3 separate regions of the Homo sapiens genome follow, and all the other regions are linked to region 3. Evidence: fine-mapped expression QTL. A gene starts in region 3. Each other region holds a variant in brackets. All regions are shown on one strand. Distances are between the middles of the regions. Region 1 overlaps APBA1 (amyloid beta precursor protein binding family A member 1). Region 2 overlaps APBA1 (amyloid beta precursor protein binding family A member 1). Region 3 holds the start of APBA1 (amyloid beta precursor protein binding family A member 1).

Evidence for each region. PIP is the estimated chance that this variant, and not a neighbour inherited with it, causes the effect.
Region 1: its variant is fine-mapped to the expression of APBA1 in whole blood (TOPMed, PIP 0.94).
Region 2: its variant is fine-mapped to the expression of APBA1 in whole blood (TOPMed, PIP 0.97).

What each region holds. Positions count from the first base shown.
Region 1 is chr9:69,617,727-69,625,977 of GRCh38, forward strand. The region is part of intron 1 of APBA1 (amyloid beta precursor protein binding family A member 1); the gene reads right to left. Among named protein-coding and RNA genes, the nearest start is that of APBA1, 51 kb to the right of the region's middle. The variant G/A (reference allele first, on the strand shown) is at 3,839.
Region 2 is chr9:69,634,844-69,643,094 of GRCh38, forward strand. All of the region lies in intron 1 of APBA1 (amyloid beta precursor protein binding family A member 1), which reads right to left. Among named protein-coding and RNA genes, the nearest start is that of APBA1, 33 kb to the right of the region's middle. The variant T/C (reference allele first, on the strand shown) is at 4,943.
Region 3 is chr9:69,667,795-69,675,841 of GRCh38, forward strand. APBA1 (amyloid beta precursor protein binding family A member 1) reads right to left here and starts at 4,577. Exons shown (of 13, transcript NM_001163.4): 1 at 4,359-4,577. RefSeq lists silencers at 4,345-4,424, 4,605-4,654.

The sequences.
Region 1 (8,251 bases), 50 kb before region 3:
AGATTTATATCTCATTTTTTAAAAATTGTGGTAATATATAATATGAAATTTACCGATTTAACCATATTTAGATATACAATGGCATTATGTACACTCACACTGTTGTGCGACTTTCCCTCCTTTTAAATCTTACTTTCTTGCCAATCAGAAGATCAAGTTTGGGTGTTTATGGACATAAAGCTAGCAGTGCTAAAGTTCTGGCCTCCCCATGCTTCATCATCAAGCTTAAACACACACACACAGCCCTCCTAGGTAGACTAACCTAAGAGCAGCAAATACATTTTCTTAAATCTCAACTTTAATTGCTTGGTAATGTATGCCTGGAATACTGTGTAGGAACAGTACCATGACTGAATAGTGTTGTTTGCCTCAGGTGTGGGATGGGATAATGGCGCCATGCAAGTTGCATATTTATCATTTCCGAGCTAGTCATTTTAGTACAGGTCCATAGAAATTGAACACAGCTCAGGCACTCTGGTAAACACACACAATAGACACTAACTTGGTGGAACATCCCCAGGTCTTCTCAGACTCTTCATTGGCTCCCTACAGAAGCCATGCATTGACACCAGTGACTTTTCTAGGAACCACTCAGCTTCTCTTGACTCAATTTAATTCACTCAACATTTAGTGTGTTTGCGCGATGCACAAGAGACACTGTTCTAGATGCTGGAATGATTAAAGTGTAAGTAGAATAATTTCCAACCAACTCAAAGCTCACAATATGGAAGGATGCTAATGAAGGCAAGTACTTGAATAATTGTTCTATGAGGAAGGATATGATACTTTCCATGGAAAGAGACCAATGAAACGGAGGTATGAAGTAAATCAAGATGGCGGCCAGTCATACTCAACCAAGGCTGATGTGGCTATGAAAAATCAGACGGTTATGACAAGTAGAATCAGACAAGGGCACCAGGTAGGGCAGAACCAGATAGAGACAAGGAGCCATCATGGCTCAGGCCAGAAAAGAACCCAGCCTGAGAGTGAATTCACTGAAACAAAGAGAGGTGAGGGCTCAAGATTTGTCATAAGAAATTCTTAGCAATATATTTTCAGCCTTTGTTTTTAAAGATACATTACATAGAGGAAAAGGGTAAAAACTTGTTAGAGGCAGAAGAAATGGATTTACATCGTAACCCTGCCCCCTACTAGCTGGGGTATCTTAGGTCTAAGTCTCTCAACTTTTCCAAACCTCTTATCTTCAAAATAAGGACAATATCTACCCCATGGGCTGTGTGAAAAGTTAATGGAGATGCAGTCTGCAGAGCAGCTAGTGAAGTATTTGGCATATGGCAGGTACCTAACATATTTTGGTTCTTTTCATTTAAGGGGGTTCTAAGTAGCATTGTGGACTACAAAACCACATCAGTCAACTCTGTTTAATGAAACAGAGTATTTGTTATTTTGAGGCAATTGAAAGGAAATTTAAGTCCCCACTCTCAAGGAAGTTATCTAGGAGTGGAGAGAAGGAAACAGATATCTTAAAAAGCCATAATAAAAGAAATTACATTCATGAAAATGACCCCATAATATACAGATTACTTTGAAAACACACTCTGAGTCATTCATGAAGACTGACAGAACTATAGAAGCAACTGGAAAGGTCTTTGTAAATTAGGGAAGGAAATATGAGACACATAAATACTATAAACACATTTGCTATTTCGGCCCTACTATTTACTAGCTGTGTGACCTTGTGCAAACTGCTTAACCTCTCTGAATCTCTATTCCCTCAGCCATAAAGAACAAATGAATCTCTCTCCTGCTTATCTCACATGGGTGTTTTAAAACTCAAAGTATGCAGATGGGCTCTGCCAACTATCAAGAGCCATACAAAGGCAGGGCATCATTATTACCATTGTCTCAAAGAGCACACAAAAAATCAGTTATTCAGACACAGGCTCCCTCCCCAACTCACTTGTGCTTGGATTGGGAAAAACAGAGAAGCCAAGTTGAATTTTTCCCTGCTTAAACAATAAAACCTGCCTTATGAGAAAGTTTGAGCATAACACAGAGTCATGTCTTAAATTCTGGAGTTTCATGCATGTGGTCTAAATTAATTATTCGCATTGACAGAGGCAGTCAGACTGCCCCCACATATGTAACAGAGATGCACATACACACACATTATGTTCTGCTGAATGACATAAACTGCAACTTTTCCATTCCATGTTCGCACAGCCAGCATTTTCTGATAAAAATAAAAATTTGTATTCTCGGTTTCTACGTGAAAAGTTACCTGAAATCTCTAGAACATGAGGGAACAAAAGATTCCCAATACCCAAAACAAGCAATTAAATACTGAACTGAAAACAGTCTTCCCTTAACATCTTGGTCTCAAAGCCCTGTCTGTCTTCTGGAAAACTAGGTCCTTGCTCCCAGCATTGCCTCTTCCTCCCTCACCACGTTAGATCTGGCAGTTAGTACTGGTAGCTTCCAATTTCTCCTGAGGACGGTCTAGTCGTTTTCTTTTTTTAATTCTCAAAGCCAGGGCAAAGTCTGAAATAAATTCTAGCCGCATTTTCCCCCTGCAAATTGGTATTACCAGTCTTCAGCAAGAAAATGAGAGGATATAAGGTACACACTAAGCTAGGAAAATGGGTTGTGGCCAGCATGCCAGTGAGGTTGAGCTTATCCCTAGAGACTGATGGTCAGAGAGACAGAGTGCCGGCCAGGCATGGTGGCTCACACCTGTAATCCCAGCACTTTGGGAGGCCGAGGCAGGCAGATCTGAGGTCAGGAGTTCAAGACCAGCCTAGCCAGCATGGTGAAACCCTGTCTCTACTAAAATACAAAAATTAGCTGGGCATGGTGGCATGTGCCTGTAGTCCTAGCTACTTGGGAGGCTGAGGCAGGAGAATTGCTTGAACCCGGGAGGCGGAGGTTGCAGTGAGCCGAGATCGTACCACTGCACTCCAGCCTGGGCGACAGAGCGAGACTCCATCTCAAAAAAAACAAAACAAAACTGAGAGACAGAGTGCCACCTCTTCCTTCTACAGATAGCAAGGAGAAACCCAAGGGGTCCGAAAGTGGCTGCAGGGTCCTTTCCCAGTCATTTAAATTCACTCCATCTCTGCATGGAGATGCCATGGAGGGAGGTGTTACAGTGTGCAGGCTCGGGCTGGTGCGGTCACACGAAGGAGCTGCACAGTTGGACGACAGTGAAGCTCCAGAAATGAAGCAGCAGCAGCAAGGCTTGGGTAGCAGCATGCGGCGGTCCTGCATGTGGGCTTAAATCCAAAGGCCCGGGAGCTGAGACTGAACCTGGGCTCTGCCTTATATTAACTGTAGCATGGTGGGCAAGTTACACAACCTCTCAGTGCTTCAGTTTCCTGATCTGTAAAATGGAGTTGGATAGGACTTTTGGTAAAAATCAGAGATTGGCACAAAGTAAGCATTCATAAAATGGTAGCTGTTATTATCACCAGTGAAGGGAATTTAACTAAAAATACGGAAACCTAAAGGTGCTGGCTGCCTGGCCATCTAGTCATCTTGATGCCAGTGGGATTTCTTAAAGTGCTAGCTCCACAGGTATCACTTCATGTAAGATTACGTGAATTATATTAAATGTAGCACAATAATGACTTCATTACCTTGTTTTCTGGTACTTCAACACCACTGAAATTCCTGCCAAACCTGTGGCCTCTCTGTGGCCCTATGTTGAGTGATGTCCAACCACCTTTCCAGTCAACCAGCCTAGAAATCCAGAGTAAAAGCATAAAAGCCAATGACAACTTCTTATCCATGGAGAAACTGTATGGTGCAGTGGCTGAGTGCATGGCTCTTGAGTCAGACTGCTCCGGTTCAAGTCCTGGCCCATCACTTATTAACTGTG[G/A]GTCTATGAGCAAGTTATTTATTCTCTTTGTGCCTCAGTTTCCACATCTGTAAAACATGTACAATAACAGCTTCACAATATTCACAACAGCAGTTGTGGGATCAAATAAATTCATATATATATCAAGTACTTATTAATAGAACAGTTCCTGGCACAAGGCACTAAGTGGGTATTGGCCATCATTACAACTCTTCTTTATGAATATAACAGAAAAATACAAGCGAGTCAGGCTCAGAAGCCTCCTAAGGCAAATGTTTTGTGATCTTTAATCTGCTTCCTACTAGTGAATAAACCATAGCATTTGGCAGAAATAAAGCAGTTAATTGGAACGCAGTGTTGGCTATGATTAGCAACAAACCATGTTCTCCCGTCCCAGATGGCAAACTGATAAATAGCATAGATGTTGCCTCCCAGTCCATCAGAGCCAGAAGGATCTTAAAGATCACCTGATAGTGGCCACCAAACCTGAGGAGCATCAAAATCAACTGGGGAGCTTTCCAAAAAACACAGACTCCTTAAGCCCAGACTCTGAAATTATCTCAATTGGTCTGGGATGGGCCCCAGGAATCTGGGGATGTCACCCATATGTGAGATCTATGGATTAAATCCATTCTCCTCCTGTCAAAGATGATAAAAATAAGAACCAGCAGAATAAGCCCACTTGCCCTATGACTCACAGTGTGTAAGAGGCAGAGCAAAGCTCAGGTGTGCCACACATCTCCTCCAGCAAAATCATCTCTAGAAAGTGAAACAAAGAAATGAATCCTACACCAAGGGCTTAATCTCCAAAGGTGATTAAATATGAGCATGTCTGTGTCTAGTTCCTTATAGGAGCAGGTAGGTCTGGCTAGGTTTCATGGGTTCTTCCATTAGCAGAGGGAAGTGCTGTTGGAAAATGTTCCTGGTCTTTGAAGTCATTCAGTAACAAGAGCATCTAAGGCCAGTGCAAATTAAATCAAAGTCTGTTTTTATACCTTTTTATTCCAAGTGGCTTTTTAATAGAGACCAAGTCATAAGAAAAAAAAAAGAAACAAAGAAAGAAAAGAAAATCTATTGGAGAAGTAAAGGAGGCATTTGGGAATAAAGGGAAATAAGGCCTTATTTGAACCTACAGAGTCACCCTCACGTCATCTATGTCATTGCAGCCTCGGGCCTTGCAATGTGTCTGTACTTCTGTACGTCCAAGAACAACTTATTCAGAGCCTGTGAACTAAATTCCTGTCAAGCTAAAGATTTTTCCCTGGAAATTTTGGTAGGGATGATTGGTATAATTTCCCAACTTCTCATGACAAACCCTTCTGATGTTTGGAAAGCAGCTCATTATCAGCTGTGGTTTTGGCAATCACAGCACATAGAAACAGCATGCATTGTCTTCATGATTAGCACAGGCAGCAACAGAATCTGCAAGAATGACTTCATAATTCAAGTGTCCACACTCTTGGCAGAGCTAGGGGTCCTCTCCAAAGACTGTCCAGGGGTCCCACTAGAAAGATCTGACATGATCTTTGGCTCAAATGGCAAAATTGTACTTGAAAACTCTGGAAAACAGCAAGTTTAAGAGCAGCTCATAGGCACCCCACCCAAAAACCTACATTATCAATCTACAGTTGTTTTGAAACATGGATCTTGGGGGAGAGTGCTGGGAGTCTACTGCGCTTTCATTTACTCTGGTTTACTGACCTGAGGCTGCAATGAAATAGATAAGGGTGATTCTGCAGGTTCAAGGAGAGCCTCATTTTCCTTTATTCCCAAATGGTGCCTCCTCCACTTCTCCTATAGATTTTCTTTTTTTTCTTTTTTTTTTTAAAGACTTGCTCTCTGTTAAAAAGCAGAAAACTTATGGACGAGTGGTACTTTTAGCTTTTGCATATCCTCTTCTCAAAGAGGGTTTGATAGAAGACAGCTGGGGACAAGCTTGAAGTCACAGAGGGAAGAAGACGATTTAAAGCAGGAAGTGGATGGGTCAAAGAAAATGCTCCCCAACCTCACAATTTTGCAAGAGCTGGCCCTGACTAGATCTAATTGTTCTTTACACCAATTGTTCTCAATTTTAATGCATATAAAAACCAGCTCGGGAGGGTGTGTAAAAATGCAGATTCCTAAACTCCAAACTTTGGGAGTCTGGTTTGGGAGGCTTGGGGTGGAGTCCAGGAACCCACATTCTAACAGGCTCCCTGGCCATGTGGATGCACATATTTGACCCCAACACTGGAGAACACAGTTGACACTCTTGAGGATGTTCAAAACAAAACTGGTGGATTGCTTGTTGCTTTTAGCTTTATGACCTTGAGTAGGTCATCTTAACGTCTAATTCTCCCTTTGTGTGTTGTAATACCTCTCTTATCTTGCTGTAATACCTCTCTGACATGGATATACATGAGGTAGGTATAAGTGTATTTTTAGAAATGTAAAAGCAACATAAAATTTAAAACATAAATCATCATAATCCATTTTTTTCCATTTTCATTCATTTTTAACCTATCTTTAGAACATGCTGGCAAATTGCTTCTGAGGATTCCGAATATGAAATAAAAAGTTCCCAGAGGTTCAGATTATGATACTGTGCAGTTTGGGACAGCTTTCAGTGAAAATCAAACAGTCTCTAAATATAATAAAGAGCAGCACGAATTTACAATACAGTGAGTTTTAAATAGGCAGCCACACTGCATAAGACCAACATAAGGATGGGCAGAAATATGCCTAAGATTAAAACATCCTACACACTTACAGAGCAAGTAATGTTCATTCTTACTGTGCCAGGCAGTTTGCTCAGACCCAAGCAAGATCCCAAATGAAAAACACATTCAATTTTGAAACAAATTTTATAGTTACAAAAATTTAATTTTCTTCTATTATTAATTATTAAAGAAAGTGCCCACAAAACAGCATTTTTCTTTGAAAGCATGAGGGGCTATGCTCAGTCCCTGCTGGTATCCTCACTAGGTATTGAATATAGTCACCTCCACCATGACTCCACAGAGCTTGGGTGAGGTGCCCAGCAGGTCAAAATGACTGGTTTCTCACTCTCACCTGAATTAGACCTGCCTCATTTGAAGACATTCAAATATGTCCTAATTTTAGAGGGCAATCCATTGAAGTCAAGTTTCCAAGAAATTACATCAGTCTTTGCAACAAATTTACAATGGCATGACCAAAACTTGGTTCTTGAGCAAGGGTTTTAAAACAAAGCATGATGATTTACAGTTCAAGTTCTCACAAATGCAGAGAAACCCAGGTGCAAAGGTGAGTTTAGATAGACATCAACAATAAATTAAAAGTGCATCAAATTCTCTTTCTCCACTGTCAAACTGAGACATGTTTTTCCTGGTTTTTATTCCTATTGAAAAGGAAAAATAGGGCATGACCAGCCTTTGTTACAGATATTTAATTGCTAACAACCAACCCACAGCAACAGCCTGCTAATAGGTTTCTTGCCTCCATAGTTCCTTCATGGAGCTCACATTCCAGAGATCTTTGGATTTTATCTGTGCTTAAGATAAATTCAAATTCCTTCCTCTGTCTTATAGGGCTCTGCACAACATGGTCTTTATTTGGGACCACTTTCCCCATTCCTAGTACATTGGCCACAAAAGCCTGTACCTGTCTTCAAACACATCGAGCTTGCACCACTGTTCCTTCTGGAATGTTTTCCCAGGACTGCTCCTTTTTGACAATGGGATCTTTGTTCAAAGTCTGTATATTTCACTGAGACCTTCTTGTCCCACCCAGTTTAATGTAGCTGTATGATCACTCTTTGTCATGATGCCCTAATTAATTCTCTGCATAGGATTTAACTGCAGCTGATAGTTTTATTGAACATTTACATTTTTGCTCATTATTTTCTTCCTCAAATGAAATACAAGCTTCACAGGAAGAGGGATCTTGTCTGAACTGAGCATTGCAGCATCCCTTGTCCCTAGAACTGTTCCTAGCACATAGGAGGCCCAAAAAGATTTGCTGGCTCGGTGAATATGGAGAACACTGAGGTTGCCTGATTAATGTTCAATCTTGAAGAAATCTTAGGGTTCAAGCATTAATTAGGCTTAGAGATATGCCACTCACAGACTCAATTAGTTTAAATCACTGTCCTCTGCTGGGCTAATTTAGTTAAAATATATCTCAAGCTTTTCATTTGTTCTTTGTAAAATTTAATATTAAGCATATTATTAGAAAAGCATTACTAAAATTTGAAACATATTCCAACGACTTTAAGAGGTTTTGACTCAATGCACAACCATCAACTTGAATATACAAGAGAGCAACATATGTCACTGGGCTTGAGTTCATCACTGCCTAAATTACTCTCTGTTAATAAATTCAGCAGATTAATTCTTAAGCACATTCTTTGGGCAGTATATCCAGTGCTACCCTGATGGTCCAAAAAGGCTTTATCTGAGTTACTTGATAAGGGGA
Region 2 (8,251 bases), 33 kb before region 3:
AAAAATTATTCTAGAATAGCATATCTGGTGAAAATATCCTTCAAACATGAGGGAGAAATAAAGATGTTCCTAGACAAACAAAAGCTAAGGGATTTCATCAGCACCAGGCCTATCCTATAAGAAATGATAAAGAAAGTACTTCAGTCTGAAAGAAAAGTATGCTAATGAACAATAAGAAATCATCTGAAGGCACAAAACTCACTAGTGATAGTAAGTGCACAGAAAAACACAGAATATTATAACATTATAATTGTGGTGTATAAGTATATCTTGAGTAGAAAGACTAAAAGATAAACTAGTCAAAAAAACTATAACAACTTTTCAAGACATAGTACAATAAGATATAAACAGAAAAGAAAAAGTTTAAAATCAGGGGATGAAGTTAAAGCATACAGTTGTTATTACTTTTCTCTTTACTTGTTTGTTTATGCAATTGGTGTTAAGTTGTGATCAGTTTAAAATAATGAGTGTATTATCTACAAGCCTCATGGTAACCCCAAATCAAAAAACATAAAACATATACACACAAAAAAAGCAAGAAATTAAAACACACCACCAGATAAAAATAACCTTCACTAAAAGGAAGATAGGAAGGAAAGACCACAATACAGCCAGAAAAAAACAACAAAATGGTAGGAGTGAGTTCTTACTTATCAATAATAACATTTAATGTAAATGGACACAATTCAATAAAAAAACTTAGAATGGCTGAATGGATGAAAAAAACAAGACCCAATGATCTGTTGCCTAAAAGAAATACACTTCACCTATAAAAACACACACAGACTGAAAATAAAGGAATGGAAAAAGATACTCCATGTAAATGGAAACCAAAAAAAAGCAGGAGTAGCTATACTTACATGAGACAACATATATTTCAAGACAAAAACTGTAAGAGGAAACAAAGGTCACTATATAATGATAAAGGGGTCAATTCAGCAAGACAATATAACAACTGTAAATATATATGCACCCAACACTGAAAACTCTCTGAGACATTGGCTAGGCAAAAACTTCTTGAGTAATATTCCACAAGCACAGGAAACCAAAGCAAAAATGGACAAATGTGATCACATCAAGTTAAAAAGCTTCTGTACAGCAAAGGCAACAATCAACAAAGTGAGGAGACAAGCCACAGAATGAGGGAAAATATTTGCAAACTACCCATATGATGGCAGATAAATAACCAGAGCTAAAACAACTCTATAGGAAAAATATCTAATAATCTGGTTTAAAAACAGGCAAAGGATCTGACATTTCTCAAAAGAAGACATACAAATGGCAAACAGGTTTATGAAAAGATGCTCAACATCACTGATTATCAGATAAATGTAAGTGAAAACTACAATGAGGTAGCATCCCACCCCAGTTAAAATGACTTTTATCCAAAAGACAGGCAATAGCAAATGCTGCTGAGGATGTGGACAAATGGGAACCCTTATGTCCTGTTGAGGGGACTGTAAATTAATACAGCCACTATGGAGAACAGTTTGGAGGTTCCTCAAAAAACTAAAAATATACTTACCATATGATTCAGCAATTCCACTGCTAGGTATATACTCCCAAAAAGGAAATTGGCATATCAAAGAGCTATCTGCACTCCCATGTTTGTTGCAGCACCATTCACAATAGTCAAGATCTGGAAGCAACTTACATGTCCATCAACAGATGAATGGATAAAGAAAATACATTCTGTAATCACAGCACTTTGGGAGGCTGAGGCGAGCTGATCACTGGAGCCCAGGAATTTGAGACCAGCCTGGGCAACACAGTGAAACCCCATCTCTACAAAAAGTACAAAAATCCTGGACATGGTGGCATGTGTCTGTAGTCCCAACTACCTGGGAGGCTTAGGTGGGAGGATCACCTGAGCCTGGAGAAGTTGAGGCTGCAATGAGCCATGATGGCACCACTGCACCCAAGCCTGGGTGACAGAGTGAGAGCCTGTCTCAAAAAAAGAAGAGAGAGAGAGAGAGAGAGAGAGAGAGGGAGGGAGGGAGGGAGGGAGGGAGGGAGGGAGGGAGAGAGAAAGAAAGAAGGAAGGAAAGAAGGAAGGAAGGAAGGAAGGAAGGAAGGAAGGAAAGAAAGAAAGAAAGAAAGAAAGAAAGAAAGAAAGAAAGAAAGAAAGAAAGAAAGAAAGAAAAATGTGATACATATACACAGTGGAGTACTATTCAGCCATATAAAAGAATGAGATCCTAAATGAAATCCTGTCATCTGCAACAGCAGGGATGGCACTGGAGGTATTTACGTTAAGTGAAATAAGCCAGACACAGAAAGATAAACTTCACATGTTCTCACTTTTTTCTGGGAGATAAAAATTAAAACCATGGAATTCATAGAGATAGAGAATAGAATGAAAGCTGCAAGAGGCTGGGAAGGGTTGGGGAGGATGAAGTAGGGATGATTAATGGACACAAAAATATAGTTAGATAGAATAAATAAGATCTAGTGTTTGATAGTACAACAGGGTGACTACAGTCAACAATAATTTATTATGCCTTTTAAAGTAACAAAGACACTATAATTGGATTGTTTGTAACAGAAAGAAAAGATACATGCCTGAGGTGATGGATAGCCCATTTACTGTGATGTAATTATGACTCATTGTATGGCTGTATCAAAATATCTCATGTACCCCATAAATATTTATACCACTATGTACCCATAAAAATTGAAAATTAAAAATTAAAAAATATAAATCCTTGTAGGCTGCTTTAGGGATAAACCATTGGCTCAAATAGGTAAAACAGATGAAATACGCTTCCATACCGTGGCACAGCAGACACAGGCTGAGAAGCAGTTTGAATAACAAGCACAACTTCTAATGCAGAGAAGATGTACTTGTCTTGTATAACAGTTTCTGCCAGTTTAATGTGGACCTAAAACACATAAAAGTGCTATAAAATAATATCTTCAAAACTGTCATACTTTTTAAAATGACAATTATGAAAAATAAATGTTGAAGTTACATTTTAATAGGAAAGCTGGATCATGCCCAACACTGGGCCAGACAGGAGAAATTCTACATAGAAAAAAGGAAGGCAGGACATATGAAATAGAGAAAGGAAGAAAAATCATGAATGTGAGATAATGAATTATGTGCTACAACAGCTGACCTCACTGCTCAAATATAGCACATAATTCATGAGTCATGACATTACCATGAATGCCTTCTTGCAGAATTCACAACTGAGCAGCATTGGCAACCTCTGAATATGGTGTTGTTTCTTTCTTTCAAAAGACAACACATCTGATGAACAGTAATTTTATTTACTCAAGAGATATGTTGCTAAAGAGCTGTATACAGATTTTTGTACAGGTAACATATTTTAAATGCACTAGGGTGTCTAGCTTTATGAATGAAATGCTCAAGTGCATATTTTGTTTTTGTTTTTGTTTTTGTTTTTGTTTTGAGATGGAGTTTTACTCTGTCATCCAGGCTGGATTGCAGTGGCAAAACCTCAGCTCACCGCAACATCCGCCTCCTGGGTTCAAGCAATTCTCCTACCTCAGCTTCCCAAGTAGCTGGGATTACAGGCATGCGCCACCATGCCCAGCTAATTTTTGTATTTTTAGTAGAGACGGGGTTTCACCATGTTGGCCAGGCTGATCTCGAACTCCAGACCTCAGGTGATCTGTCCACCTCGACCTCCCAAAGTGCTGGGATTACAGGTGTGAGCCATCAAGTGCATACTTTATAAAGTGAATAATACAGCCCTTGCCCTGACCCTCTCTTCATTTATGTGTACAAGATTAAACAGATGGTTTGTGTTTGCATGCAGGCATGTGCATGTTTAAATAGTTTAAAGAACCACTCAGGTATCAAGTCAGCAAATGAATCAGAAGTGATTAAAAATCACATAAAATTTTTACTAAGACAAGATAAAGTTGGTGTCTGTCTAGGCAAGTATATGCAAAATCTTTTTCTTTCAGATGCCTCAGTGCCCATTCAGAAGATTGATGGAAAAAACATATGAGGTGTATGTTTTTGAAATTTTGAATTTTGAAAATCAAATTTTTGAAGATTAAAATTTCAAAGTTAAATTTTGAAAACTAAAAATTAAAAAATATAAATCCATGAAGTCACATGAAAATAACAGAAATATATAGACAGGGACAGAGCTTCTCAAAAAACAGGGTCCATGCCCCATTCTCAGGGTCCCTAAAACTATAAGAGAATTTATATAGGTTTTGATTTTTATGATAACCTAATCCTCAGCTCCCATCATGTTCACTAAATTATTATTTAGAAATAGAAAAACTTCTATTTTACAGAGATAGTTTACAGTTAAAAGACATTTTTTCGGCATTATTTTCATCCATCTATTCTCAACTGAGTTCTGTGGCTCACTGAAGTTGTATTAGTCTATGTGAATTTTTCTCTTTTAAAAGGGAGTTGTAATCCTGTTGTACTGAATTTGAATGGGAAGGATCAATATGAACTTGTGAAGCATTTTATCTTACTCTGCCCATTAAATTGGCCTAGAAATAATGAGCAACCTAGTAGTCCCAATAGATTGAGGTCATTAAATACCATTTCTCACTTAAAGAAACTAAGAGAACCTCTCAGGGGAAGTAGCTGATTCCAGGTCAAAAGTAGAAAATATAAAGGATGAACCTGGAACATCTCATCACACCAGAAGCAAAGGAGCTATCAAAGAGCACAAGGAGTATGTCAAAAGGAATCAGGGCCACCTTTAATAGGCTCCTACTGTCCAAAATGAAATGGATTAAAATATATCAAATGTGCTTAAATTCACAGTACTAAAGTCAATAGTAACAATAAAACTTGCCTTTCTCACTGGTTACCCCCTGGAGGGTGTGAGCAAACCAACTCCTTATTTTGAAAACTGGTAAATAAAAAGAAAGAATCAAACATTTACTCTGCCTTGCTAGTATAAATTATATGTCAAGTAACCAGAGAGTTGACAAGTGTTTC[T/C]CCTTATAGAAGTCCAGCTAATAAATGAGGGAATAGTAAAATCTGAATGTCATCATTTTTAAATCCCAATAAATTAATACACTTAGAAAAAGCACTTATGAAATAATATTGCCAAAAATCATCTAAATGGAGTCCATTGAAGCTTCTACATCTGTCTACTAATTTATATAAAACACAGAGAACAGAGAGCATATGAAATGACAGTACAGGGGACAATCAGCAAAACCCAGACTAAACTTTAGGGATAAAGAACATCCTACAGGAAAAATCAACCATTTTTTCCTCAACAAATAAATTACTAAGGGAAAAGACAGATAACAGAAAAGATTAATAAAATAAGCGTTATCCAGGTGTAATGCCCATCTATTTTGCATATGTACAACTCCTAAAGCCATTACTTACACACACACTCACACATTATATGTGCATATTTAAACAAAAAATGTTGCTTTAAAACTTACTAGGAAACAATGACAGTTTTAGAATACAGTGTCTTATGATTAGGAAACTATAAAATAGTGTGAGCCCTCACTCCCGGGAAATAAAGCAAATCTGGAAAGCTTAGGACACGAATGCTCATCTGGGGCACAAGTATTCCTTGGGAGAAGTTTAGAATTGCTGGGAGTCATATAATTTGCAAAAGCTTGGTTAATAATACGTTCACATTTGGAAAATTAAAAAAATTAATGTATATAATAATATTACAGAGTCAACATTTTGACTCTGTAATATTAATAATTATCCATATAATAATATTACAGAGTCAACCAACCACCAGAGCCTATGCTGAATGTTATATATATTACATAACAGCCACAGGAAAAGGTATTAGTATCCCTATTTCTCAGAAGACAGAAACTGACCTTTCCAAGGCTATATAGCTAGTAAAAATAAACATATACACTCACCATCTCAATACGTTCAGAAAAAGCATTTCACAAAACTCAACTCCCATTCATAATAAAAACTCTCAACAAACTAGAAATAGAAGGAAAGTTGATGAAGAGCATCTGCAAAAAACCTGTAGCTAACACCGCACTTAATGGTGAAAGACCACTTCTCTCATCATTTCAATTATTTCAATTCAATATTGGTGGTCCTAGCCCATGTAATAAGGAAAGAGGAGAGGGGAGAGGGGAGAGGGGAGAGGGGAAAGGAGAGGGAGAAAGAGAAAGAGAGAGAGAGAGAAAGAAAGAAAGAGAAAGAGAGAGAGAAATAAAGTTGGTTTCTTCATTTGCAGATGACATAATCTGCAGATGACATAATCTATGTAGAAAATACCGAGGAATATACCAAAGTGATAAAACTAATAACTGAGTTTAACAAGGTCACAAGATACAACGTCAATATATGAAATGCAATGACATTTTAATATACTAGCAATGAACAGCTGGAAGTTGAAATTAAAAAGAAAATACTAAAAACGTGACATACTTAGGAAAAAAAACATTGCTGAGAGAAATTAAGGAAGATCTAAAGAAATGGAAAGATATACCATGTTCATGGGTTGGAAAATTCAGTATTATTAAGGCATCAATTATGCCCCAAATGATCCATAGATTCAACATAATACCAATCAAAATCCCAGCAGACTTCTCTGTAGAAACTGACAAGTAGATTATAAAAGTTATATGGAAATGCTAAAATCTGATTCTAAAATCTACAAGAAAATGCAAAGTTGGAGGACTCATACTACCTGATTACAAAACTTAGTATAAAGCTACAGTAATCAAGACAGTGTGATATTAACACAGGATAGACATATAAATCAAAGAAACAAAATGAAGTCCAGAAACAGACCCACCATATATGGTAAGATGATTTTCAACAAAACTGTTAAGGTAATTCAATATGGAAATGATAATCTTTTCAAAAAAGGGGTATTAGAACTGAATATTCATATGTGAAAAAAATCAATCGTTCTCTCTCACTATTCACAAAAATTAACTTAAAATGGGCCAGAGACTTAAATTTAAGAGCTAAAGCTATAAAAGTTCCAGAAGAAAACATAGCAGAAAAATCTTTGTAACTTTGGGCTAGGTGAAGATTTCCTTTTATTTTTTATTTATTTATTTTTTGACAGAGTCTCTCGCTCTGTCATCCAGGCTGGAGTGCCGTGGCGTGATCTCGGCTCACTGCAACTTCCGCCTCCCGGATTCAACCGATTCTCCTGCTTCAGCCTCCCAAGTAGTTGGGACTACAGGCACACGCCACCACACCTGGCTAATTTTTTGTATTTTAGTAGAGATGGGGTTTCACCATGTTGCCCAGGCATGAAGACTTCTTAAACAGGACACAAAAAATGTACAAACTATAAAAGCAGAAGTTAATAATTTGCACATCACCAAAATTAAAAGCTTCCATCCTTTGAAAGACAGTGTTAGGAAAATAAGATGAGTCATTGACTAGAGATAATATTTGCAAAACACCTATGTGATAAAAGACTTATACCTGGAATACATAAACAACCCTTACAACTCAATAAGATGACAAACAAGCCACTGAAAATATAACCAAAAGATTTAAACAGATGCTTTAGTACAGAAAAGATATGATTGGACAATAAGCCCATAAAAAGACACTCAACATCATTAGTCATCAGGGAAATGCAATGCATTATCTCTACCACTTAACTAGAATACCTAAAACTAAAAAGCCTGAAAATTCCAAGTGTTGACAAGGATGCAGAACAACTGGAAATCTCATAAGTTGCTGGTGGGAAATCAAAATGGAAGAACCACTTTGGAAAACAGTTTGGCAATCTAGTGGTTAATTTTATGAATTAAATTGGCAGAGCCACAGTGCCCAGATACTTGGTCAAATATCATTCTATATGTTTTTGTGAAAGAGAGAGAGAGAGATAGAGAGAGATAGAGAGAAATAAAGTTGGTTTCTTCATTTGCAGATGAAGGTTTTTTTTTGAGGAGATTAACATTTAAATGGTAGACTTTGAGTAAAGCAGATTGCCCACTATAATATAAGTGGGCTTCATACAATCAGTTGAAGGCATTACGAGAACAGACTGACTACCGCCTGAACAAGAAGGAATTCTCCCAGCAGACTGCCTTTGAATTTGAACTGCAACTCTTCCCTGGGTCTCCAGCCTTCCAGCTTGCTCTGTGGATTTTGGACTTACCAAACCTCCACAATCACACGAACCAATTCCTTCAGCTAAATCAACCAGCTGATCTCTATATATACATATATGTGTATACACACACACCCCCGCCACAAACACACACACACACACACACACACCCCTCCTCCCCCCTCCACACACAGCCTGTTGGTTCTGTTTCTCTGGAGAAC
Region 3 (8,047 bases):
GTTTTCACTGCTTTCCATTTCCCTTCCCCCACGCCTCCCTTCAACCCTTGCCCCTGGCTGCCACTTCCACCTACCACAAAGACAATCAAGGAAATCCAAGAGTCAAATCCAATGGCTTTGCCTTGGTTGCACCGTCACCCATGGGGTGTGCTGTGTGAGTGACAGGGGCTCTCCTCACCCCTTCCAGCTTCCATGACACTGTACCACTTCACTTCCATCATTTTTCTCCAATTGCCCCTTGTTTAACGTGGTTCCTGTCCTCTTCTTTCTCTTTCCCCTCCAACATACAGACATCCCTCAAGGATCCTATCCTTACTTTTGCTTCTTCTTTCTTCATTTTCTTTATCAGTGATTCCTGGGATATGAAAATCGCTCCTAAGCAGATGACCTACAAATCTCCTGGTAGCTCTAACCTCCCTCTGTATTCTAGTCCCTTAACTTGGACAAGCCTGTCATGCTCAAAAAGAAACTTCTCTCCTCTTCCTTATCCTCTGTTATATCTTCTTTCTGAAAATGACCCAACTGCTCTCTCAGCTAAGCCTGACAATGATCTTTTGGCCTCCCTTTTCCCTTCCTCACTTTCCAGTGACTGTTCAAGCTCCTCAGATAATTCCCGCACACCACCTCTTAGGTGTGTTCCCTTCTTGCCTCCCACTGCCTCTTTCCATCTTTCCCCTACTTTGACAATAGAGTCTATCTGGTCTCCCTCCTGCCAGCCTTTTCCCATGTCATTCCATCCAACATAATACTACAAAAGTATTGCCCCAAAGCACAGTTCTGATACTGTCAATCTTTCTCCTCACAAATCTTCTATAGTTCCCCAGTCCTTACTGAACAAAATCCACACTCCTTAGCTTGGCGTACAAGTTGCTCCACCACCTTGAACAAACCTCTCTTTCTTGCTTTATCCCTCATTACATCTCTTGGCATTCCTAGCGCTTCAGCCAAAGCACACCATTTTTTTGTTTCCTGTGTAGGCATACACCTTCCACTGCCAGGCCTGTGCTACACTGTTCCTCCCCCAAGCATGCCCTTCCTTCTCTGCCAACCCAAATGCCACCTTAATCACAGCTCAAATGCTATATCCCATGTAACCTTCCCTAATTCTTCCATCAGAAGTCACTTTGTACCCTGTGAACTCCCACAGCTCTGCAGGAATACTGCTTTTTCAGCACTTAATCATTTTTCACTATTTTTACAGTTAGTAACATATTTCCTCTTTTCTCCTTCTAGATCATGATCCACCTCTGGCCAGGATCTAAGACTTAGCATTCTTTGAACCTCCAACCCTTCTCAACATTCCCTGTCCCCTATCCAAAGGTACAGTGGATCTGAGATGCGGGAGGCAATTAACAAATGTTTGCAAATTAATTATTGTAACCCAGAGAGTTAACTTCAGATTTTACGGCTTGAAATTCTCTCAATTTTAGCAACAATTACTTCTTCTTTCTAGGATAAAAGTCCTATCTCCCCAAGGTACTACAGTTAATTCCTTTTGGCCCCAGAGGTCAATTTTCAAATATCTCTTACCCCTAAGTCTTCCGAAACAAACAAACACAATAACAACAAAACAAAACAAAACAACAACAACAAAAAACCTTAAGAGGCTCAATAATGGAAGAGAAAAGCACTGATGCTACTTTAAGTGAAGGAAAGGCATCCATGCACAAAAAATGGCTTGCTGCAGGCCACAGCAAAAGGTACCACCATTTATTAGAGCTGTCTCATTAACCTTATACCAGTCCGATCTTTAGAAAAGCCAGATATTGCATTTTTAAAACTATCAGCCTGGGCAGCATAGCGAGACTCTATCTCTGAAAAAAATAAACAAATATCTGGGTGTGGTGCCATGTGCCTATTGTCCCAGCTACTCAGGAGGCTGAGGCAGGAGGATTGCTTGAGCTAGGAGTTTGAGGCTGCAGTGAGCTATGATCACACTACTGCACTCCAGCCTGGGCGACAGAGGAAGATCCTGTCTCAAAAAGACAAATAAAAATAAAAATGATCACATTTACATTAGAAAAGAACTGATTCCTGAGTCATCGATTTTGCTGCTGTGTAATTCCTCTTTCTCTAAACAGGGTATTTACCTGGTAATTCCTCATATTATTAAACTTTCTTGTGAGACATTTACATCCCTGGTCTTACTTGCAAATATAAAGGATGATGACTTTTTTTTAAACCAAAATCTCTTAGAATGGCTTTTAAATTCCCTAAGTACTTTTCTCAGAAAGACATTTGGCATAACAAATAAGAGAGTAAAGAACTAAGATTCAAAATTCATTTTTATAAATCTATCCTTAAATCTTGGATGACAGCCAACAACCAACCTCACATTAAAATCTTAGAAGGCTTGACTTGAAGAACATGGGGAAATTTACTTTACATAGACAGCTTCAAGAGCACCTTGTCTATATATCATTAAATAAGATACATGGGAAGAAAAAAAAGCATATGTGGATAGCCCTAGTTTTATTATTTTCACAACGATATCATGCAATCTTTGCCCATAAAAGAAAGCAAAACAAAAATTTTAAAAAAGAAAAATAAATCTCTGGTGCCAACATGTTGTATATTTACTTGTGTAGCCATGACTGCTACGGGCTTTTCGAAGAGAACCGGGCAGCCAGTTTGGATTCCGACAATGCAGTAGAATTTAAGGTGTTATGACTAAAACATGTCCTAAGCAGATTAAGCTAGTCATACAACATTTTAATAAAGAAGTGTCGAGATATTAAGTGTAAAGTGCACTCATTCCTATGAATACCGCAGGAGAAACATAGGTGAGGGGGAATCACACTGCCCTGGATACACATGAATATGCCATCTCCCTGCCTACCTCTACCCAACCCTACCTACACACACCTATCTTTACCACGCAGAGACAATTAAACAGCCATAGACTCTGGATGCATTTCTGTGTCCTTGTTCCCACTGGGTGAGTTGTTGCCAGCCTGACATTTTTCCAAATTCCCTACTAGTGGGCTCTATCAGGTAGGAAAGCAGGGACTTTACTGACCTGGGACCCCATCGCTGTGGGTCTCAGGAGATTTCAGTTTCCAAATGATACACGGCACCACCTAGCTATTGTGACAGCTGGGAGAGTGGATGTCACCAGCAGTAGAAATAAAGTATCCTGTTTCCTGAGGAAAACGCCCTGGCTGTGTGATGCTGACCAAGTGGGCACCAAACATTTCTCCGTGTGATATTTTTCTTCTTTTTAAAAGACCGCCCCCCGCCCCACCGCATCTCTCTATACGTATACACCTCCAGAGTTCATTCTAAAAGAACCAACACAAAGACCATCCATCCTCTAGCCATAAGGTTTTCAGTGCTTAAATGTGGAAGGAGAAGGTCTAGCTAGCATTGAAAGTTGTGGGGACAGGAAGAGGAATCTGATCATTCAACATCCTTCTCCTTCTGGTCAGACAAGAGAAAAACAATAGAAACTGCACAGTCAGGGAGTACAAGACCCTTATGGAACAGGTGCTAAGGAGAGAAGTAGTATCACAGGATGGAAGGCCCCTTCAAAACCAGGTACATTAGCAAGCCCAGAATGTGTAACGGTTATCCTATTTCCCTGCCATGTGCCTCAAAGCAACATGCTCACTTCCACATCCCCATGTCATGAGGCCAGAGGAAGGGGAAGCGAGAATCCCTACACTGGGCCATCCACACGCAGGAGCAGAACAGACACTGTGCTCAGAGTTGCAGGGTCAAAATAACAAACACTGTCCCACAGTCTTAGCCGGTGACATCAAGTAAGGGCAGCGGCAGATCTCTGGATTTGGGGCGCAGTTTGGGGAACGTGGATGCAACCACACGCGTACACACACATATACAGGATTTTACAAACCGGCCCCTATCCCACTGCCTCCCTCCACACTTCACACACCAAGTGCATCCTGCCCACCTCACCGTTTCCATCATCACATTCTTTCTCCAGGAGAGTCAGCCGAGAGATGAGGGGGTCCTAGCGGGGATTCCTGGAAATGTCACCCCCCAACACCTCCGTCCGCCACCCCATCCCCTCTGCTGTACCTTTTACACACACACTCTCACACACTCACTCCTGCCATGACTGTCATCAGGCCCGCCTGCTGCGCCCGAAGCCCGGCATCTCAGCGGGCACCGGACCCCAGGCGTCTCGCTCGCAACGCCGCCTTCCCCCGCCTCGCTAGCTGATGGTTCCAGGCACTGCCTCCTGGATGTCGCCTGCTGCCTCCGCTCCTCCGCACTATTGTTCCAGGCAGCCCCTCTCGCGTCCGGGGGCGCCCTTTGGCGAGGACCCGGGCTCCGTCGGGGGCCGCATCAGCGCCGGGCACCCCTTCTCACCCACCCCTCCCTGGCTGTGGTACCTTGCCTGACAGCTGGGTCCGCGGGCCCGCGGGAGCAGGCGGCGCTAGTGACAGCGCTGGTGCCAAGCCTGGGAATAAAGCTCCGCTCCAGCCGCTGCTGCCTCCAGCGCCACCATCTTCTCCCGCCGCAGCTGCCGCCGCCGCCGCCGCCGCCGGGACCGCAGCCGCCCTCGCCCAGCTCCGGCTCCGCAGCCGCTGCTCGGACCCCTCCGGTCTCGCGGCCCCACCCCCTTTCCCCACCCTCCCTCCCGCCCTCCAGCTAGCTCGCTGGCCCCTCGTGACGCGCGCTGGGGCCGGGCGGGCCTGCGAGGGAGGGCGCGGGGGAGCGCGCGCGCGCACGCCGCCTGCTAGTAGCGCCCCTGCCTCCCTCGCCCACTCGCGTGCGCGCGCGGCCCGCGAGCCCGCGGCGGCGGCGGCGGCACCGCTGATGTCCTCCGTGGGCCGCCGGCTGCAGCGCCCCTGCCCCGGCGCCGGTGGGCGTGCGGCACACCCGCGCCTCTCGCCTTCCCTCGCGTCCGGGTTCCGAAGGGCCCGCCCTGCCTTTCGGAATGGGTTCCACAGCCCCATCCTCTGGCTCCCGGCCGGACGCAAGGAGGGGAAAATGCAGCTGCATCCCCGAGGGGACTGACGGGGGCCTCCACCCTCCTCGGTGGCAACCCAGGTGGTCCCCAGTTTCCTAGCCAGCAGCTGTGGCCAACCTCTGCGCGAAGCAACGGGCCACGCTGCAGGACCACGAAGCCAGGCAGCCGCGTCGACTCCTGCAGGGTGTTCTCTCCGGAGTGACTCCCGAGCTTTCCCGCTTCCCAGGCCCCTTAGATATCGCCTGCGCTTCAAATTCGGAGATTGACGGCGTCTCCGGAATGCGTCGCAGTCCTGCGAGTTCTCCGCCAGGGGGAGAGCCGCGCGGGCTTGGGCCTGAGCGAAGACAGCCGGGCTGCAGCCCTCCAGGGGAACTGCCGAGTCCCGCCGGGGACAGCGGAGAGCCTGCGGATTGTGAAGCCGAGGAAGGCTCGGCTTGGTTTTCCTACCCGCTCCTCAGTTCTGGTTGATCGGAACTTAAGTGTCTTTGAGCCTAGCACAGGCCATCCGCCCTAGATATGGCTCCTAACTCGAGAGGCCACCCTTTGCGGCAGGGACCAGGTGGCAAGTGCTGTGCATTAATGAAAAGCTGTGGGCTAGACAGGCCCCGGGAGGCCTGGGCTCTGGCGCCAGCCCCACCTGTAATTGGCAATGCAATAGCTAAATCATTCCCCCTCTTAGAAACACAGATTTTTCCATAATAATGTTATAATGCACAAAGCCTTGTAGTTTGCAAAGCCCTCTCCGCACATGTATTCTCCAGTAAAATGAAGATAAGCGCTGGTTATCCAGATCCCTTGGGAAATGGATCTTTTACCACACCGTGTTTCCATATTATTTTAAGCACGTCTCTAGAGAAGTCTGGGGGTGTAGCCTAAAGCATTCTGAAAGTCTTGTTTTAGCTTTAAAATTCATATGAATTTTGCATTGTACTTTGTAATTTTTTTTTGCTTTAATAAAACAATAGCTACCTTCTCAAAAAGATTTTAGTAAAATTTAAAATTATATACTAGGAAGATGTCTGCTTGTCCTGTGACATTACTCATATTTTTTCCGGTGAATACTTATTTGGCATATGTACGAGCCAGACATGGTCCTTTTCCACCAGAGCTCACAGTACGCTGAAGGAAATAGGTATTCAACTATCAGACTGGCCAGGCGCGGTGGCTCACGCCTGTAATCCCAGCACTTTGGGAGGCTGAGTCCAGCAGATCACTTTAGGCCAAAAGTTTGAGATCAGCCTGGTCAACATGGCGAAACCCTGTCTCTACTAAAAACACAAAAATTAGCCGGGCGTGTTGGTGCACGCCTGTAATCCTAGCTACTCGGGAAGCTGAGGCACGAGAATGCTTGAACCGGGAGGCGGAGGTTGCAGTGAGCCGAGATCGCGCTACTGCACTCCAGCCTTGGTGTCTCAAAAAACAAACAAACAAATAAAACAATCAGACTAAGTGCAACTGTGATAAATTCTCAACTGCAAAGGCGCTAAGGTGCACGGGAAAACCTAATGTGGACTCTGGGACTAGGTAAGGCTTTCTAAGGAAATGACATTTCAGATCCCCCAGGAGAGGCAGCATTGAGACACTTCCAGGTAAAGGGAAGGAAATGTGAAAAGGCCCAAGCAGGTGGGGCCGAAGTGAGATGAGACTGGAGAGGCAGGCAGACTTTGTGGACCGTTTTTAAATAATGATTTTGTCTTATGAGCCTGGAAAGTCAATGAAGGGTTGCCAAGAGTTGGGAGCAGGCAAGCAGGATCACATTTCCGTTCCTGAAAGATGGCTGAGGTGGTTTGTGAGGAACTGATTCGTGGAGGGTCAGGATCCAGGGCGGAGAGAGTCTGAGCTTATCCTACTTAGTGAGTGTTTAGGGTTTTCTGTTTTTGCACTAACTGCTCTTTTGATTGTTTTTAGTTCTTGCCTCTGCTCTCCTGTGTACGCATCTAGGAGGCTTTCAGAGTGCTTCTCTGTAATAGTTTCTGTTTTGTTACTTTTAATCCACTGCAGTTTTAGGAAGGAAATGAACCCTGTTAGAATTTCAGGTTAAATAAGAGAATATAGGTTCTGAGTGAGAGGCTCTTTTCTGTGCATACACTTATTGCCATTTGGTTTGCTATCTCAGAGATCTTTCTGCTTATTTTCTACTTTTTGTGTTGCCTTTCCAGTTAGACTAGGTTCTTAGATGCATGAATAAGGGTTACATTATTGCTTTAATAATATCCTGGAATCTTACCTCGCAGGATTTTTGTGTAAAGAAAGTTATGTGAAATTTCTCTGCAAAGTATTCAGTGCCATATAAAGAAAGGTAATAATTGTTAGTTATAATGGTAGCTTAGAGACCTCCAAAACTAATTACTTACCAAATGTTCATATGTGGAAATTTCCCTCCCTCCCCCACCCCCATGAAAAACACATATTCCTATTTCTTCTGGATAGCATGAATCATTGTCTTAAGTGCTCTTGTTACTCTGTGCCTTCGCTGGCAGGAAACTCAAAGCCAAATTTTCAGATCATTGTAGGAAATGAGTGGATCCATATGGCATGTAGATCCATGTCTTAATCCCTCCTTTGGTCTTGTTCTATTCTATTTATAGATTTCCTGTGCCTGCTTTATTGATGTTTTTCTTTTTAGTAGATCTCTTATAAGGCACTCCAATCCACCACTCCAATCCACCTTCTCCTGTTAACAGGGTCGAAACTGCTATTCAAGTGTTTCAGGAAGCAGTATATAAAATACTGGCAGCCAGGCATGGTGGCTCATGCCTGTAATCCCAGCACTTTGGGAGGCCAACGTGGGAGGATTGCTGGGGAGTTCAAGACCAGCTTGGGCAACATAGTAAGACCCCCGTCTCTCAAAAAAAAAAAAAAATTAGTGGGCATGGTGGCGAATTCCTGCAGTCCTAGCTACTTGGGAGGCTGAGATGGGAGGATTGCTTTAATCCAGGAGGTTGAGGCTGCAGTAAGCTATAATTGTGCCATAGCATTTCTGCCTGGGTGATAGAGCAAGACCATGTCACTAAAAATAAAACACTGGCAACCTGCCAACCATTGAAGCAGGTAACAATAGTATAGACACTGTGCCAAGTGACTTGGGTTTAAAGTAAAGCCTTAACC